Homo sapiens: one gene and its partners. The protein of the gene in region 2 binds, or shares a complex with, the protein of the main gene of each other region. Each region holds a gene or a part of one and is shown on either strand. Other genes may lie near its edges.

Region 1 (7,489 bases), on a different chromosome or scaffold from region 2:
GGACTCAAAAATGCCCCAATTTTTGGAGGACAAGGGTCATCTTGCCCACCTTGCAACCAGCCAGCCATTCCAGGAAAGCTATTCCTGCAGCCTCATGGTAGGGTGAGGGCTGAGAAATGGGGCATGGCAGCTGTTTTGCATCCACCCTGTTGCTGTTCTCTTACCAACAACCAGCAGCCTCTTTTTTCATCAAGAACTCCCCTGGCTGTTTATTCATGTCTCATGAGGTTTGCCTGTCTAATTTTTTGTATCTTTAGTAGAGATGGGGTTTCACCATATTGGCCAGGCTGGTCTCGAAATCCTGACCTCAGGAGATCCATCTGCTTTGGGCTCCCAAAGTTTTGGGATTACAGATGTGAATTATTGTGCCCAGCCAAGGCTGGGTAATTTGTAAAGAAAGGAGGTTTATTTGGCTCGCAGTTCTGTGGGCCATACAAGCATGTGGCACCAACACCTGCTCGGTTTCTGGTGAGGCCTCAGGAAGCTTCCAATCATGGTGGAAGGCAAATGGGGAGCTGCACGTCACATGGCAAGTGGAAGTAAGAGCTAGGGAGCAAGAGAGGAAGGAGGAGGTGCCAGGCTCTTTTAAACAACCAGCTTTCATGTGAACTCATTACTGCAGAAGAGCAGCAAACCATTCATGAGGGATCCGCCCCCAAGACCCAAACACCTCCCACTAGGCCCCACTTCCAACATTAGGGATCACGTTTCAACATGAGATTTTGAGGGAACAATATCCAAACCATGTTAGTGGCCCTCTATTGACTCCAACATCTATGAACAGGGCTGGTGCTTGCCTTGGTCAACTCTTGTCTCCCATTCCCAGTGGGGGGCCTGGCACATGAAGAAGGGATTAACCAATAATAAGTAATAAAGTAATAAGGTAATAAAATAATATTTACTTTTTTTTTTTGAGACAGAGTCTCACTCTGTCACCCAGGCTGGAGTGCAGTGGCACCATCTCGGCTCACTGCAAGCTCTGCCTCCCGGGTTCATGCCATTCTCCTGCCTCAGCCTCCTGAGTAGCTGGGACTACAGGTGACTGCCACCACACCTGGCTAATTTTTTGTGTTTTTAGTAGAGATGGGGTTTCACCATGTTAGCCAGGATGATCTCGATCTCCTGACCTCAGGATCTGCCCACCTCAGCCTCCCAAAGTGCTGGGATTACAGACATGAGCCACTGTGCCTGGCCTACCATTTTTTTTTTTTTCTGAGAGGAGTTTCACTCTTGTTGCCCAGGCTGGGGTGCAATGGCATGATCTCGGCTCACTGCAACCTCCACTTCCAGGGTTCAAGTGATTCTCCTGCCTCAGCCTCCCCAGTAGCTGGGATTACAGGCATGCACCACCACACCTGGCTAATTTTGTATTTTTAGTAGAGGTGGGGTTTATCCATGTTGGTCAGGCTGGTCTTGAACTCCCGACCTGAGGTGATTTGCCTGCCTTGGCCTCCCAAAGTGCTGGGATTACAGGCGTGAGCCACTGCGCCTTGCCAATTTTTTTTTTTTTTTAGACGAAGTGTCATTCTGTTGCCCAGGCAGGAGTGCAGTGGCATGATCTCTGCTCACTGCAACCTCTGCCTCCCAGGTTCAAGCGATTCTCCTACCTCAGCCTCCCGAGTAGCTGGGATTACAGGTGTGTGCCACCACGGCGGCTAATTTTTGTATTTTTAGTAGAGATGGGGTTTCATCATGTTGGCCAGGCTGGTCTCAAACTCCTGACCTCAAATGATCCGCCTGCCTCCACCTCCCAAAGTGCTGGGATTACAGGCATGAGCCACTGCGCCCGGCCAAAGCTGATCATTTGAAAGTGTGATAAGTGCTACAAAGAAAATTTAAAAAGTGAGGTGAGGGCAGATGCCTAGAGGAGAGGGGAGGGGCTTTTGTGGACAGGAGATCAAGAAAGCCCTGTTATTATTTGAACTGAGGCCTGAGTAATGGCAAGGAGGCAACCATGGAAAGATATGGGAGAAATATTGCAGGCAGAGAGATCAGCAGGTGCAAAGGCCCTGAGGCAGGAACTAGTCTGGAGTATCTGAAGAAGAGAGAAATTGTTGTGGTTGGCTTGAGTGGTAGGGGGCTTGGTTGGAGGTGGGGAAGGTGGGTCCGACAATGCTGAATTCTAGTAGGATGTCTGGATTTGATTCTGGTTGCTGTGGGAAGCCATGGAGGGCCCTAGAAGGGAGACTGACATGACCTGATCCCCTTTGAAAAGCTCACCCAGACTGCTGAGTGGATAATAGTTTAGAGGTGTGCGAATTGGATGTCTTTGGCTGCTCATGATAGAAAATTGTCCTGGTCATTTAGAAAATTTACTGGCCTTTTAAACGGGAAGTTCAGAAGTGATGCAGACTCCAGAGCTGGTTGATTCAGCCCTGGATCAAGTTCTGTGATGCTGTCAAGGATTGGGTTCTGTTCTCAGCTCTGCTGACCACAGATCGCACTTCATTCTGAGTACTGGAGTGTCTAGGTGGTCTGGGGGGCTGTCTGATACACATGGGGCTACCTGCTTTGCACTTCCTGGCCAAGGGGATAGACTGATTCCTTATGGGAGCACTTTTGAAGAATGAGGAAGAACCTTCTCAGGAGAGGCGTGGTGGCTCTTGCCTGTAATCCCAGCACTTTAGGAGGCCAAGGCGGGTGGATCACTTGAGGCCAGGAGTTTGAGACCAGCCTGGCCAACATGGTGAAACCCTGTTTCTACTAAAAATACAAAAATTAGCCAGGTGTGGTGGCACGCGCCTGTAGTCCCAGCTACTCAGGAGGCTGAGGCAGGAGAATCGCTTGAACCCAAGAGGCAGAGGGTGCAGTGAGCCAAGATGGCACCATTGCACTCCAGCCTGGGCAACAGAGGAAAAAAAAAAGAACCTTCCCAGAAGCCTCCAGGAAGTCTCTGTTTGGACGACATCGCACACCCATTCTTGAACCAACTATTTAGAAGGGAGATGCATCACCCCCTTTGCCTGGAGCTAGGGGGTGGGTCAGCTTCCTACAGGCACAGGACTATGTGGTCGCGGGTTAAGCCCCTAAACGAGGGGAAGTGGGGTGGGCAGCAGCCGATCTCCATTACAAGGGACAAGAGTAGGGGCAGCAAGGCCAGATCAATGGTTGCTGAGGTGGCTGGGGATGGAGAGAGGATGGTGGTGGTAGAAGAGATGGTAACAATGGTCAGGTCCTGGCTGTTCCAGAGGTGATGATGGTTGGATATGCAGTGAGGAAAAGACAGGAATGAACATTTATCTTTTCCCAAGTTGTCCTTGCTTTCTTCCTTTGAAGCCATAAAAAGGAAAAAAAGGGTGGATCTGGACTTGGGAGCTGGGCAGGAGTGAGGGAAGAGAAGCAGAGCAAGCAGGCACACCAGGCTGTGACTCTGCAGGCATCTCTCTGCCTAGACTTGTCTGTATGATGTGGAACGAACACGACCCATCTTTACTGCTAGCGACTGCAGCAGATAAGGCAAGGCCACTTTCACGCAGTTAGGTTAATAGGAGGCTGTACAAAGGGCTGTAGGAGGAAGTGGGCACAGGAGTTCTAAAATAATTGGAACGGCCAGGTGTGGTAGCTCACACCTGTAATCCTAGCACTTCAGGGAATCCAAGACAGGAGGTTAGCTAAGACAGGAGGCTCGCTTAATGTCAAGACCAGCCTGGGCAACATAGGGAGACCCCGCCTCTACAAAAAATAGAAAAATTAACAGGATGTGTTGGTGCGGGCCAGTGGTCCCAGCTACTCCTGAGGCTGAGGTGGGAAGATCGCTTGAGTCTAGGAGTTTGAGGCTGCAGTGAGAAATGATGGCACTACTGCACTCCAGCCCGGGCGACAGACCAAGACTCAGTCTCTTAAAAAAAAAAAAAAAAAAAAGAAAAGTGGGGGCAAAGTTATCCTTGGAAAATTTCTTAGTCCATTCATAGCAGCATATTAAAATTAGTACAGTAGCTTAATTTATATAAGAGAAAATACAATGTGTACAGTAATTAATGAACATGCAAAATATAATTGTATATTTCAACTCACTAAAAAGGCACAGAAAGAGTTGAATTTGCTAAAATTAAATGTGCTTATGAAACAGCTCTAGTACATGAATTAAGCTCCTAGATACAGATGCAGCGCCAAACGACGGGGAGGGAGATGGGGCACTCAAGGCGACACGCGGCTCTTGTTGCCGAGCGTTTCCTGGGCGTGGAGCTTCTATAGAATGTAAGCTTTTTTTTTTTAAGGTTCCAAAGCCTATATTTAGTGCTTTCATATACGTAATCTCAAAAAAAAAAAAAGAAAGAAATATCGGCATAAAATGTAAGCTTCCAGAGGGATACAAACGCAGCCCAGCGCGGACACCGCCAGCCCCAGCCACGCGGTTCGCATCAAGCGCACTCCCCTGGGGGCGGGGCCTGCGCGAGCTGGGCGTGTCGGGGGCGGGGCCTGCGCGCTTGCTTCCGGCGTGCCGCGAGAGGCGGGGCGTGTGGGGAGGCGCGGCCGCCACGCGACGCCTGGCTGGGCCCGCACCGGAGAGGCGTCTCGGTACCTGGCAGGCGGCCTGCTACTCGGAGCCCGCTGCGGGGCGGCGGCGGCGGGGACATGCACGTGTGAGATGCGGCAGCGGGCGGCGCGGACGCGAACAGCAGCGGCGGCGGCGGGCGCGGCCTCCTGGGCGCGGGGCGCGCGGTGCCTGAGGGCGGGCGCGCGGGCGCTGGGCAACTGCCGGCCGCGCCGCCTGCGCAGGCGCTGGTTCAGGACTCACACGCCGCGCTGAGGCCCGCGGGCCCGTCATGGAGGCGCCCACCGTGGAGACGCCCCCCGACCCCTCGCCCCCTTCGGCCCCGGCCCCTGCCCTGGTTCCGTTGCGCGCCCCGGATGTGGCGCGGCTGCGCGAGGAGCAGGAAAAGGTAACTAGCAGCCCCGCGCCGCTTCCGCCTCCGCCCGCCGGGCTGCCCCTGCCTGTGCTCTGGGCCGCCGCCCCGCGTGGCCTAGGCCCAGCTGCCCGGGCCCCCGGAGGGAACGGGGATAAACTTTTGTCACGTGCTTCTGTTGTCTTTGTCTGCAGCCCTTTGACTTCGCAGCGGAGTGAGGGGTGTGCAGCCCGTTCGCCTGCCCAGGAAAGGGGGCTTCTGAGCTGAAGGCGTGCGGCAGCGCGTGGGAATTTGGGGGCGGGGGCAGCACGCTGTCAACGGAAGCGTTCGCCTTAATATTTGTAGCTTGTAATGACCTAAACATTGCTTAAAATGTGTACTGTTTGTTGCTCTTTGATTGCACGGAAAAGTTTTACCGCGTTTGTCATGATAATGCTTCCTGTGCAATATTTGGTTATTTAATATTTGTCACAATATAATGCCATTTAAACATTAAAAAAAAAAGAGAGTCTCACTATGTTGCCCAGGCTAATCTCGAACTTCTGGCCTCAAGCGATCCTCCCCCTCCTACCCTTCCCCACCTCGCCTCCCAAAGTGTTGGGATTATAGGCCTGAGTCACCGCACCCGGCTCATTTTTACAAATTTTAATTTCATCGTATAATAAATGAGTTTTAAACTACTGGTGAAAAGGGTACAAAGTTTTGTGTTTCCTAGTGGGACTTTATATAAAGAAGTATTCCCAATTTAAGAAATAGTTTTATTGTTAAATCTGATTTTTCTGTGGATTCTGTGGTCTTTCAGATTGATTCTGTCCCCTCAAGTGTCTTGAAATTGTTACTTTGAAAAGCAGTATTTAATTTGCTTAAAATATTTTATGTCATGTTTGGAAGAGCATGGATTATAAAGGGTTAGGAAGTTGCTTCAACACTATAAGCAGTTTAAAAGTTCTTAACTTTTTAATTGAACATTCCTGTATAAGAACGACTGTTTACATAGATACAAAAATATACTCAGTTCTACTAGATGGGGGTTTTGATAGAACTTAAAAAACCCTCGTTTGCTTGGAAACCACCTGTTGGGATGAACTGCGGGAATCTTTCTTTGTTCTGGTTGGTTTAAATTATTTTGTGGGTTGGATTTTCATTTCTCAGCCATTTTTCTCTAATAACGCAACTGTTAGGTTTGGAAGCCATGTTTTCAAGATGAAGGTTTAAAAATCCAGTGGCTAGGGTGGTGACTCAAACCTGTAATCCCAGCTGCTTGGGATGTCAAGGTCGTGGAATTGCTTGAAGCCAAGGAGTTCGAGATCAGCCTGGGCAACACAGGGAGACCTCCGTCTATACAAAAAAATACAAAAAATTAGCCGGGCCATGGTGGTGCACGCTTGTAGTCCCACGTACTTGGGAGGCTGAGGTGAGAGGATCACTTGAGCTCAGGCGTTTGAGGCTGCAGTGGGCCATGGTCATGCAACTGCACTTCACCCTGGGCGACAGAGTGAGACCCTGTCATTCATATATATATATATATATATATATATATATATATATATATATATATATATATAAAACTTAACTAGTTTGGCGTCTTTAAATTAGAAGACATTAATGTATTTTTTTAAAAGAGAAAGATAGAAAAAGAAGAAAGAAAAAACAGCCCCTCATGAAATCTTACTCCTTTTGCCAAAACTTGGCATTTTTTATTCTTTCAGAGAATGTGACACAGACCCTCAGAGGATGGTGTTTCTATTGCCTTTCCTCTGCTGCAGTGGGTTAATTTCACCTCCTTCAGTGTATAATACGTGCATAATGCTGACTTGATATGTTTTCTGCCATTTGGCATATTAAAAAGATATCCTTAGTTTTATTCTGATGTTAGTGTGACTGAAATGCAAAGGATACTTTTTGGGGTGCTCTGAACAGCTTTCTGGTATCGTGTTGAGTTACATTGGAAGAGAGAGTAACTGCTTTTTCAGTTACAGTCTTGTGGCAAACTGAATGACTGTTTTCTGTAGACATTGACTGTGCTACCAAATTATTTTTCTGTGTTGTGTTAATGTTAATTCGGCACACAAAATAACCACGTATATCTGTCATGGGTGTGTAAAATTATCCCCAGTTCAGGAAAAAGCGCGTCAGTATTTAATCTATCTTTATTTAATAGAAGCATTTGCTTCAGTGGACAGGAGACCCACAAGGCCACAAAATAAACTGATTAGATAGCTGCACTGTAATTATAGTGTAGTACAGGAAAACTACCCAGTAAATCGGCAGTGAAAATTTTTTGTGAAGCAATTTATTTAGGCTTTAAAGCTGGCCCAGTTGTGGGAGTACAGTGAGTTCTAGTAAAGTAGAAGCGTAGTGACATCCTGAGTGTAGAAGGGGAAAATGTCATAGTAGCTTCATATGTGGCACTTAGTATTCCTTTATGAAAGATGAATCAAACATGCTTTTAAGCTCTTGGCCTTTCCCTACATGGGTTTTGTGAGACAGAGTTAAACTCTGCAGAAAATGATTTGAATGACTGTTCTCAGTTTTCCCTGAGAGGGTACCTACCTAGTTGGCTGTAGATGCAGAGAGAGAAATGAGTTCCTTACACACAGTGGGTGCCTTAGGCTTAGGGCATAATCTTCTCTGGGAGCCTT
Region 2 (7,303 bases):
GCTCATTAATTCATTCATTCAAAATTGTTTATCAAGCACCTACTGTGGGAGCCAGGCACTGTTCTAGACATTTGAGAGACATCAGTGAAGAAATGAATGAAAGATTCCTGCCCTCAAGGAGCCTCTCTTCTAGCAGAGGGAGATGAACAATAACCATAAGTAAATTATAAGGCATGCTGGGAGGTGACAAAAGTTATGATGAAAAGAAAGAAAAAGAAAAACTAGAGCAGAGGAAGTTGATCAGGAGTAGCAGGAGGGGCAGAAGTTGCATTTTAAACATGGTGGTCAGGGCAGGCTCCATTGAAAAGGTGCCATTTAAGAAAAGACTGGGCCAGACGTGGTGACTCATGCCTGTATTCTCAGCACTTCGGAAGGCCGAGGCAAGCAAATTACCTGAGGTCAGGAGTTTGAGACCAGCCTGGCCAATGTGGTGAGACCCCTGTCTTTACTAAAAAAATACAACAATTAGCTGAGCATGGTGGCACACACCTGTAATCCAAGCTATTCAGGAGGCTGAGGCAGGAGAATCACTTGAACCCAGGAGGTGGAGGTTGCAGTGAGCCAAGATTGTGCCACTGCACTCCAGCCTGGGTAACAGAGTGAGACTCCATCTTAAAAAAAAAAAAAAAAAAAGCTGGTAGATGGTGAGGGAAGGAACCATGTAGACATCAGGGAAAAGTGCAGGCAGAGGCAGCAGCCAGTGGAAAGACCCTGAGGCAGGACCACGCCTGGCTTGTGTGAGCAGCAGCAGGGAGGTGGGTGATGACCCAGAGAGGGGGACACTTTTCCAGTGAACAAGACAGACAAGGTCTCTGCCCTGGGGAGCTCATGATTACAAAGCAAGGTGTTTAGAGAACAAAGATGGTATGGGAAGTACAGAGACAAGGGAAGTCCAAAAAACTGTGGGGGCCCAGAGAGGACTCTTGACCCTCAGGAGGAGGTAACCCCAAGCTGAGCAGTGGGGGATATGGAATAGTGACACGTGAATAAAGGCATGGGAGAAAATTAATCCAGAACGATGGGGGAGTATGTGCAAAGGCCCTGAGAATCCCACCACTGGTCACCACCCCCACTGCTATCTCTTGGTGCAGTGGCCACCCTCTCCTGCCTAGATGATTATAGCAGCCTCCTCTTGGGTCTCTCACAGAGGGGCAAAGAAGCTAGAGTATACAGTCACTAACGACTCTCTTTTCTTGGTAGGAGTTCACACTCGTGGATATTAATTCACTGCATTCCCCTCTCAACCTGCATCCATGAGCAGAGAGAAGCAGGAAGCCACAGGCATACACAGCAGTGTCTGCAGGTGACCTCTGGGGAGGCCCTAGTGGATTTTGGGTGGGGCACTGCCAGCACCTTCCACAGCCCTGTGTGCTCAATGTCTCCTTCTCCTCTCTGTCCTACCCTCTCCCCCTCACTAATTCTATTCAAATACACTGGCTGTTCCCTCTGCCTGGAATGCTCTTCCCCTAGATATCCACAAGGCTCACCCCCTCATCTCCTCCACACTTCTGTTCAAATGCCATCTCCTCAAAGACACCCTCTCTGACCAGCTTATCTCAAATAGCCCCTCCATTATTCCACCTCCACCTTGTCCTGTGCTATCTTTTCTTTTCTTATCTTTTCTTTTCTCCTTCCTTCCTTCCCTCCTTTCTTCCTTCCTTCCTTCCTTCCTTCCTTTCTTTCTTTCTTTCCTTCTTTCTTTCTTTTTCTTTCTTTCTCTCTTTCTTTTCTTTTCTTTTTTAGAGAAAGGGTCTCACTCTGTCACCCAGGCTGGGTTACAGTGGCACGATTGTAGCTCACTGCAGCCTTGAACTCCTGTGCTCAAGTGATCCTCCCACCTCAGCCTCCTGAGTAGCTGAGACAACAGCCGCACACCACTACATCTGGCTAACTTTTTAATTTTTATTTTTTTGGTAGAGATGGGGGTCTTGCTATGTTTCCCAGGCTGGTCTCGAACTCCTGGGTTCAAGTGATTCTCCACTTTGGCCTCCCAAAGTATTGGGATTACAGGTGTGAGCCCCCACATCAAGCCGCTATTTTTTTGGTAGCACTTTTTACCACCTGACATATGATATATTTACTTGTTTTATGTTGATTGTTTCTCTCACCAGACTGGGAGATTCCTGAGAGCAGGGACCATGTCCAGTTTTGCTCATGGCAGAATCCCTATCACAGGGCCTGGGAAGTCAATACATAATTGTGAAATAAATGGCTCTGAAATTGAAATGCTCTCCGAGAGTCTTTCTGGGTCTGACCATTTCAAAGTCTTGGAAATGACTATGATTCCCCTCCCCAACATTTCCAGTGGCCAGGGGTGGCCTCTAAAGGCCAGTTACCGCCAAGAAGCTGCTAATGTGGGAGCCTCCCTCAGCCTCTCCCCATCCAGGCCCATGTGGTAGGGGTCAAGGGTCAACCTGGTCCAGCCCTCTGTGGGTCCCAAGGTGGAGGAGACGCAGTGCTGGGGTCCAGGCCGAGGGATGCCTGGTGAGCCCCATTTCTGCTTTGGCAAACATCCCCCTTTCCTTCTCAGGGCCTGTGCCTGCATTTCTGAACCAGAAGGTGTTTATACAAAACATCCTGGGTTTGGCGACAAATTCACCCTCAGTGAGGAATCCTTAATGAATCTCCCTCCTTCCCCACACCAGGTGGCTGAAGGAAAAATTAGCTCTGCCTCTGGTAGTTGAAGGCAGCCAATGGCTAGGCAACATAGAGGTGCTGCTGGGGCTTCTGGGGCCACAATTTTTGGGGAGGGTTTTTTCAGGGTCCGGAAATGGCATGGACACCAGGCACTCCTGGCTTGCTGTGTGATGAGGCACTGCCTTTCTCCTGGCCTCAGTCTGCAGCTGTGAAATGGGGCAGTAATAATCCCATCCATACAAAGGTTGCTTTGACACTCAAGTAAGGCAAGGGGTGTGAAGGGGCTTGGTTACAAGAGGTCAAAAGGAGAGAATAAAACGCTGGAATCAGGGAGGCGAGACATCAGAGTGATAATATCGGTTCTGCTCTTTAGACTTTCAAAGTCCTTTCCCAGCGCCTTTTACAGCCATGTGGGCTCAATGCCTCCTTCCCTCTGACCTCCTGCCTGCTTCCCCCCCGCCCATTCTGTTCCACATACGCTGGCTGTTCCCTCTGCCTGGAACACTCTTCTCCTAGGCATCCACATGGCTCACCCCTCACCTTCTTTTCAAAGCCTTGCCTCTCTCTGAGGTTTGTTTTTTCCAGCTATCCAATGAGGAGTTTGGGCGTGAAGACCTCGTGGGAACCCTCTGGTTCTGATGGTAACCATTTTCCACCTGCCTGCCTTCTCTGGGAAGTCCTCCCAATCCTACCACCCACACCCACCTGCTTTTCTGAGCTAGCACTTCATTGCTTACTGCCCATAGTTTTCAAGTCCCTTCCTTATGTATAGGCCAGCTACTCTGGACATTGGGCCCAACACAGGGGCTCAAGTGAACTCTGGTTAAACGGAATTAAAAGTGATTACTGCTTCCTTTGTTTTTTGAGACAGAGTCTCGTTTTGTCACCCGGGCTGGAGTGCAGTGGTGCCATCATAGCTCAGGGCAGCCTCGACTCCCCAGATGCAGGTGCTCCTCCCGCCTCAGCCTCCTGAGTAGCTGGGACCAACGGGCGCGCCCCCCCTCACCCAGCTAATTTTTTTTTTTTGTATTTTTAGTAGAAACGGAGGTTTTACTGTGTTGCCCAAGCTGGTCTCGAACTCCTGGGCTCAAGTGATCCCCCCGCTTTGGCCTTCCAAAGTACTGGGATTACAGGCATGAGCCACTGCGCCCAGCTGATTCCTGCTTCCTTCCGATCCTGTGGAGAGACACTGAGGCGGATTTTTATTCACCCCCTTTTTATAAATTAGAAACTGAAAGTGTCAGAGATTAAACATAAGTCACACTGCCACATGGGCCTTCTTGGTGTTTCTTAGCCAGGGGAAGAATAATATTTCCCAGATCCTAATCACTACCTGCCACGGTATATAATTGTTTTGCCATTAATTGTCGGTGTTTCCCACTAGGATGAAGTTCCATGAGGGCAGGGATTTTGTTGTGTTCACTGCTGCATCCTAAGCACATAAAACTGCTTGGCACATAATAAGTGCTCAAGAAGCATGAACCGAGGGAGTAACGGGTCAGAGGCAGCCCGAGGACTGAGCTCTCTGAGCCTGCAGAGGGCGCTCCAGCCCCGCCCCCAAAGCTAGGCCCCGCCTCTCGCAGCCGGCTGGCGCACTAGTGTTAGAGCCTGCGCACCACCGTTCTTTTAACTGCGCAGGCGCGCCGGAAGCACCTAGAGAGCGGCGCGTGCGCAGCGGGAGTCGAAGCGGAGATCCCGGGGTCGCGCGAGAGCCGCAAGCGGAGTTGGTGGGCGCTATGCTATCACCCGAGGCAGAGCGAGTGCTGCGGTACCTTGTAGAAGTGGAGGAGCTCGCCGAGGAGGTGCTGGCGGACAAGCGGCAGGTGAGAGGCCCCTCCGCGGCGCTGGGGCCTGGCGGCCGGCGCCGTGGGAAAGCGCGCGGGGTCGCAGTGAGTTGACCTGGACAGGCGGTTAACGGCTCCGAGGCGACAGACCTGGGCCGATAAATATTCGGCCGCTACTAAGTGAGCGCCTGCGCTATGCTGGACATTCCTCTCTCTTCATCCTTTCTCTGCCCCTTGCCATGCTCTGTGGATCTCGACCCATCATGCTCTGGGCCGTTTCCCTGAGCACCTGTTTCAAAATGCACTTCCCGGCCCCATGGTTGATCTAGGGGCACCGCCCTGTAAAGGCCCTCAGGGGAGAGCTGGAACCGAAAAGAAGCCTGAGGGGGCCTTGTGACCGGGCAGGGGTGGGGACGTGGGGGAAGGTGGCGCCCTGTTTATGGGGTGTCTTGTTTTAAGTGCCAAGTTTTTGAGGGGAGTTCCTGGGGGAAGGAGGGTGACGTAATTGGATTTAGGTTTTAAAAGGATCCCCCCTGGCTGCTGTGTGGAATACAGAATATAGGTGGGCAAGGGCGGAGGCAGGGAGATGGGTGAGGGGCCATTGGTATGGTCCAGACCAGAGATGGATTTGGACTAGGTAGTGGTGGTGGAGAGAAGTGAAGGGGTCAGAAATGTATTTTGGAGACAGACTCAGTAGGCCGTGGTAGTGGAGCCGGGGGAGTCGTGACTCCCTCTCATCTCCAGTTAGAAGGGTCAGGTATTTACTGAGAAGGGGAAAACTTGGGCAAGATCCTGTCAAATTAAGTACTGGATCAGGGTGTGCTGGATGAGAATAAGAGCAGTTAAAGTTTATCAGCTACTTACTATGTGCCAGGTACTGTGTTAAGTCATTTAATTGCTGGCTCAATAACCTGTAAGGTAGGTACTGTCCGTAGCTCCATTTTGAGGAGGAGTAAATAGGAAGGTGAAATTACACAGCTTGAGGCAGATAGCAGGATTCGAACCTGGGTATTCCAAATCCAGAACCAGCACTCGTGCAGTATACTGTACTACTGCGTCACTTCCTTAGTAGCTATTGTGTTGTTACCACTGTCTCAGTGCCCCCAATCCTGCTGTTCCAATCTAGTATTGTTGGGTTTCTCATATTACTAGTTCAGAATCAGCTGGAGAAGTTTGTCCAAAAATAAACATTAGGCCTGCTTAATCACAGTGTGTAGGGGAAGGGTTTCCACTCCCCTGGTGATTCTGATATGCCCTAAAGTTCGAGTGGATAATGCAGAATTTCCCATTTAGTCAGCACATGTTTTCTCAGCATCTTTTCTGGGGAGAGGGCAGCTGCACAAAGCATTGTCTTTAAGACCAGGAAGCTGAGTGAGAGAAGAAATACATTCACACATCAATCCATTTTAGGCAGGACGTTGAATGTAATCAGGAATAATGCATTGCCTCTGCAACCCTTGTCTGTCAAGAGGTGACAGCTTGGGGCAAGAGATAGCTGAGTTCCCTCCTGTCCCTGTGGTTTTCAGATTGTGGACCTGGACACTAAAAGGAATCAGAATCGAGAGGGCCTGAGGGCCCTGCAGAAGGATCTCAGCCTCTCTGGTAAGTTGAAATTTTCTCAGTGCAGCCCTGGAGGCCTGTTCCGTTTTCCTTTAAGGCCTTTACCTTGTTCCTGATAGAGATCAGGCAGGAGGTCACAGCTGTATAACTCAGCCTTGTGGGAAATTGAAACAGTCCGGGGAGATGGGGGAGCAAATTTTGCAGTTCTGGCACAGACTGTGGTTCAGGATTTTGCCTGCTCACTTCAGTGACAGGTCGTTAGCTCCTGGCTTATCAACGATGGCAGACACTGAGAGAGTGCCGGGGGTGTATAAAACTGATGGTTCCTGCCCTTGTGCTTTACAGATGAGGAAAACAACGTAAAATGCGTAATTGAAAATTGTAAGAAAGCCAGAGATGGAATTGGACTTGGGGTGGGTGTTGAGAATATATATCCAGAAGAATGGGACACTTTAGATGAGGCCAAGTGGCTGTGGCAGTGGAAGCAAATGGGGAGTAAGTATGGCTGGAGAGAGGGACAGAGACCAGGCCATAATGAAAGGTCTTGGGGGCTAAGGGAGGAAGTTTACATTTTGTTGAAAGTACACTAGAATGTGCAGAATCTTCCAGTTGCTTCTCATCTCACCTGAGTAAAATCCAGAGGTCCTACAAGACCGAGTAATCCAGCCCCCATGAATCCATGAGTGTGCCAATATCATCTCTACTCCCCCCACCCCCAACATGACTCCACCTACACTGGTCTCCTTGCTGTTCTTTTATTTATTCATTTATTTATTTATTTGGAGACAGAGCCTTGCTCTGTCACCCAGACTGGAGTGCAGTGGCATGATCTTGGCTCACTGCAACCTCTGTCTCCCAGGTTCAAGTGATTCTTGTGCCTCAGCCTCCTGAGTAGCTGAGATTACAGGCGTGTGCCACCACACCCAGCTAATTTTTGTATTTTTAATAGATACAGCGTTTCGCCATGTTGGCCAGGCCGGTCTCGAGGTCCTGGCCTCAAGTGATCCACCTGCCTCGGCCTCCCAAAGTGCTGGGATTACAGGCGTGAGCCACTGCGCCCGGCCCCTTGCTGTTCTGAACACCCCAAGCACACTACTGATCTTTGCTGTTCCTGTTGTTTCCTCTGTTTGGCTCACTCTTTCCCCAGATGTCTGCAGGGCTCACACTCTCACTTTCCTTAGGTCTCTGTGTAGATAGCATATAATCAGTAAGGCCTTCTCAGACTACCTGCTATGATTAACAAGGTCCTCCTCTGGCATTCCCTAGCCATCTTAGCCTGCTTTATTTTTCTCTACAACTCTTAAGGTCTGACAAATCATATC
Region 3 (4,256 bases), on a different chromosome or scaffold from region 2:
GCCTCAAAAAAAAAAAAAAAAAAAATTTGGAAACAACAACAAAAAAAAAGCTTAATTTTCTCAACGTAATATTCCAAATAAGTGACTCTCCATGATCACCTGAAATCACATAAATTTTGCATATTATGAATGTTTTAGTTGGCTCCGTTTTCTTGAATGGCATAGCATCAGTGATATTGATGACATCTTAGATTTAATAAAATACAGGTATTTATTGTTGTTGACTCTATTACCAAATACAAGTGTTCTAAGAGAGACTTCTAAAAATTTTCTAAACTAAAAAAAAAAAAACCTTAATTTTCTTAACTTAATATTCCAAATAAGTGACTCTCCATGATCCCCTGAAATCACATATACTTTACATATTGTGAATGTTTTAGGTGGCTGCGTTCTCTTCAATGGAGGTGGGGGAGGGTAGGCTTAATGAAAATGTGGTAAAGTCAATAATTCCAAAAGGCTTAGCTAAAGATATGTTGAACATTAAAGAAACAAAGTGAATTAAAACTACTAATTAAGCATTTATAAAGCAAAATGATGTGACAATGTTAACTTTATTACTACTGTTAAGGTAACAGAATCAAAGCTTCTGTAGATCTCAAAAACAGAAGTTTATTCATAAAATGCATTTTTAAAGTATGACCAAAAATAAGACTACAAAACCCCTACAATCTTGTACATTTCACCATCACTTACCACAGTCAAAAACCAAAAGTCTCACCAATTCAGTTCCTGTATTTTAAGTAAAAAAGAGCTCTTTAAAATCAAAGCATTTTGTTTTATGAATTAAATTGCAGAAAATAGCTACCCAAATCTAGACCAACCGTGCCGTTTTGAGAGAGAGAGATATATATATATATATTTGTTTTTTTTTTTTTTGAGACGGAGTCTCACTCTGTCGCCAGGGCTGGAGTGCAGTGGCGCAATCTCAGCTCACTGCAATCTCCACCTCCTGGGTTCAAGTGATTCTCCTGCCTCAGCCTCCCAAGTAGCTGTGATTACAGGCGCCCGCCACTAAGCCCAGCTAATTTTTTGTATTTTTAGTAGAGACGGGTTTTGACCATGTTGGCCAGGCTGGTCTCGAATTCCTGACCTCGTGATTCACCCGCCTCAGCCTCCCAAAGTGCTGGAATTACAGGCGTGAGCTACCACGCCTGGCCCACCATTTTGATATTTTATACAATAATATTATGTCCAGAAAATTACTCACACTGAAATCTCTCAAAATGTATTTATGAAGGTTAATTCAGTTTTTCCAAGGCAAACTCTTTTAAACCAAATGAAATGATTCCCACCACAACATTATAGACACTAAAACATAACACAAGCATAAAGATAAAATATGGAACTTCAGGGACACAGAACAAATCTGAAATATGTTTAATTATAGACAACTATTGACTTAGAAATGGAAGGGAGAGAAAAGAACTGGCCCTGGAGATAGTTTACTTGGTGCTTCTGATACCCACGTGCAGCAGCAAGTCAGCAAACAAGCCCCGAGAGAGGCTGGAGGCTGGCCCAGAGGCTTGTGGCTGGGGTCTTTTATCATCAGCCAAATCCAGCTTTGTTCAATGAGGGTCAGAGGACTCCAGAACCTATCTTAAATTGTGTGAGTGTTCCTCTGGAAGGTTTCAAGTCCAAAGTCTTTTTTTTTTTTTTTTTTTTTGAGACAGTCTTGCTCAGTTGCCCAGGCTGGAGTGCAGTGGCACAATCTCGGCTCACTGCAACCTCCGCCTCCCGGGTTCACGCCATTCTCCTGCCTCAGCCTCCCAAGTAGCTAGGACTACAGATGCCCGCCATGACACCCAGCAAATTTTTTTTTATATTTTTAGTAGAGACGGGGTTTCACCATGTTAGCCAGGATGGTCTCGATCTCCTGACCTTCTGATCCACCCGCCTCGGCCTCCCAAAGTGCTGGGATTACAGGAGTGAGCCACCGTGCCCAGCCTCAAGTCCAAAGTCTTGAAGTCAAATTTTATTGAGCTTTGTAACGATCAGTACTCTCACCGTTTGGTCAAATGAACTACAGACGCAGAGACCCCTTTTATCTGGACTCCAATCCAAACTTGAAATGGGCTGGGTGGACAACGTAACATTCTGCAGAAGGCTTACAGAACCTGCGACTCCCATTTCTATTCCCTCAGAATCTTTCTTTGACCGCTGAATAGGGTATTCACTGAAAACAAGATCAAAATGGTAAGAGCGCATAAATCTTAGCTTTCACCATTTTATTTTTATACATACACTTCAATGACTCTATTTCTCAGTTGGTTACTGGGACTAATAAATACTTAAAGAATCTTTCTAATACTGAGTTGTTTGCAAATAAAGAGACAATTTCAACCTCAATCCTATCCCAAAACACGTCATAAAAAAGGGTTATTAGTTCTACTAAAAACTTCTAAAAGTCATTTCTGCTCAACGTGTATCTGTATTTTCTCTTTTAATATGAAAGTTCTAGGTTGATCTAGGATTCTTTAATACATTTACTTGGTGCTTTTGGCAATCTTTTATTTATTGTAATTTTTCTCCAGATATAGATTGCTGGATATCACAGGCAAACAATGTGCAAAGGCAATGGCTGTAAGTAACATTTGCAGAACTTCATCTAAACACTTCCAGAATGAAAAACTGATGCCAGCTTCTAACCCTCGAGCTCCATTACACGGACCCAAGCCTAAGGACCTTTTGTGTACCATTTCTATGGGAAGGCGTCACAGGGTGGAGATGTTAGACCTAAATGTAATTGTTTCAAACAAGAAAAAAGTGGTTCTGAGAACATTTTTTTTTTCAGCTGAAAATATAAATTTATACAGTAAGAAAAGCAGAAGGTTAAAGTCATAAATCCTATTTGGTCTAGATTTGAAAAGGGGAAAGAGAACACTCCTCCCCAATAGAGATGTGTTCCTAATAAAATACAAAAGTATCACTCCTCAGAAGGCCTTTTAAAACCTACTAGTATCAATTATGACAACATCTTTATTTCATACATGCTGGCAAAGGCCAAGAACGTAAGAAGCACAAAGCCAATCAGAAGCAGAATGGAAAGGGAAGAAGAATCTACAGGTGGATGATCTACTATTTTCTCTTCCTCTCAAACCCTACAAATCATTTTGATGAAAAAAAATAAAACATTCAGATGAATAAATGGTTTAAATACAGACACCTTTCACATATCTCTTGGCAAAGGCTGCAGTTATTTAGTATTCAAAAGATAACATAAAAAATTTTTAAAACCCTCCATATTATCTGTTGAAGTTTTAAAAGAATATGTGTATATGATTCAAATACTTGGAAAAAAAATCAGCATGTTGAAGTTTTTCATTCAAAAAACAAGTCGTGAATAACTAGATGATTTCTTGTAGAAGCTGTTCGTTCAGTGGTCAATAAATATTTACAATTTAATTGCATTACTACCAAGACAGACTGGCAAATGAAAATAAAGCTAAATATCATTGTACTTAAACCAATTCCCTTTGCTGGTACAATACTTGACAGTAAAACTCCAAACCGATTTGAAGATTAGACTGGACATCTGTTCTGGTTAGGTGTAAAGTTTACATTGCGCTAAACTTCAAATTTGCATACAGACCTAACTTTACTGACGGAACTAAATCCGCTGTAGTAAAAAATTCCAGCTGCGAAAGTGTTCGTGTGCCTCATGGAATACAAATCCATGTGTAGATTACAAAGAAAACTGGGACTAGTTCTTCAAGCGAGCAGCCTAAAGAGTTTGGTCACCAAGTAAAATAGTGATGTGCCACCACATGGCTTCACTAAGGGGACTGGCAGAGTCTAACGTGGGGAGGAGACCGGGATGGAAGAATCAGGGAAGAACAACAGGCAGAGGTGCTAGAAGAAGGGAAAGTAGCAAGTGATCTCTCTACCCCACATTCTCCCAGAACGACTCAAACTTTTCCTCTGCTTTTCACTCAGAAACCATATTGGTTGTTTGTTTGTTTGTTTGTTTGTTGAGACAGAAAAAGTCTCTGTCGCTCTGTCTCACTCTGTCACCCAGGTTGGAGTGCAGTGGTGCGATCTCGACTCACTGAGACCTCCACCTCCCAGATTCAGGCAATTCTCGTGCCTCAGCCTCCTAAGTAGCTGGGACGTGTGCCACCACGCCCGGCTAGTTCTTGTATTTTTAGTAGAGACCCGGTTTTGCCATAATCATACTGCTTCGATCTAAAGTGTTCACTCTGGCTGGGTGCAGTGGCTCACACCCATAATTCCAATACTGTGGGAGGCCGAGGCAGGTG

Evidence for each region.
Region 1: PDRG1 (region 2) and URI1 share a complex: the UniProt entries of both Homo sapiens proteins name them as parts of the PAQosome complex.
Region 3: PDRG1 (region 2) and DNAAF10 share a complex: the UniProt entries of both Homo sapiens proteins name them as parts of the PAQosome complex.

Annotation. Positions count from the first base shown.
Region 1 is NC_000019.10:29,937,782-29,945,270, forward strand, and holds the start of URI1 (unconventional prefoldin RPB5 interactor 1), read left to right. Parts: upstream 1-4,457; 5' UTR 4,458-4,766; coding exon 4,767-4,883; intron 4,884-7,489. UniProt on the Homo sapiens protein: Involved in gene transcription regulation. Acts as a transcriptional repressor in concert with the corepressor UXT to regulate androgen receptor (AR) transcription.
Region 2 is NC_000020.11:31,949,032-31,956,334, reverse strand, and holds the start of PDRG1 (p53 and DNA damage-regulated protein 1), read left to right. Parts: upstream 1-4,288; 5' UTR 4,289-4,373; coding exon 4,374-4,460; intron 4,461-5,947; coding exon 5,948-6,023; intron 6,024-7,303. UniProt on the Homo sapiens protein: May play a role in chaperone-mediated protein folding.
Region 3 is NC_000002.12:68,129,273-68,133,528, forward strand, and holds the end of DNAAF10 (dynein axonemal assembly factor 10), read right to left. Parts: intron 2,174-4,256; coding exon 1,966-2,173; 3' UTR 533-1,965; downstream 1-532. UniProt on the Homo sapiens protein: Key assembly factor specifically required for the stability of axonemal dynein heavy chains in cytoplasm.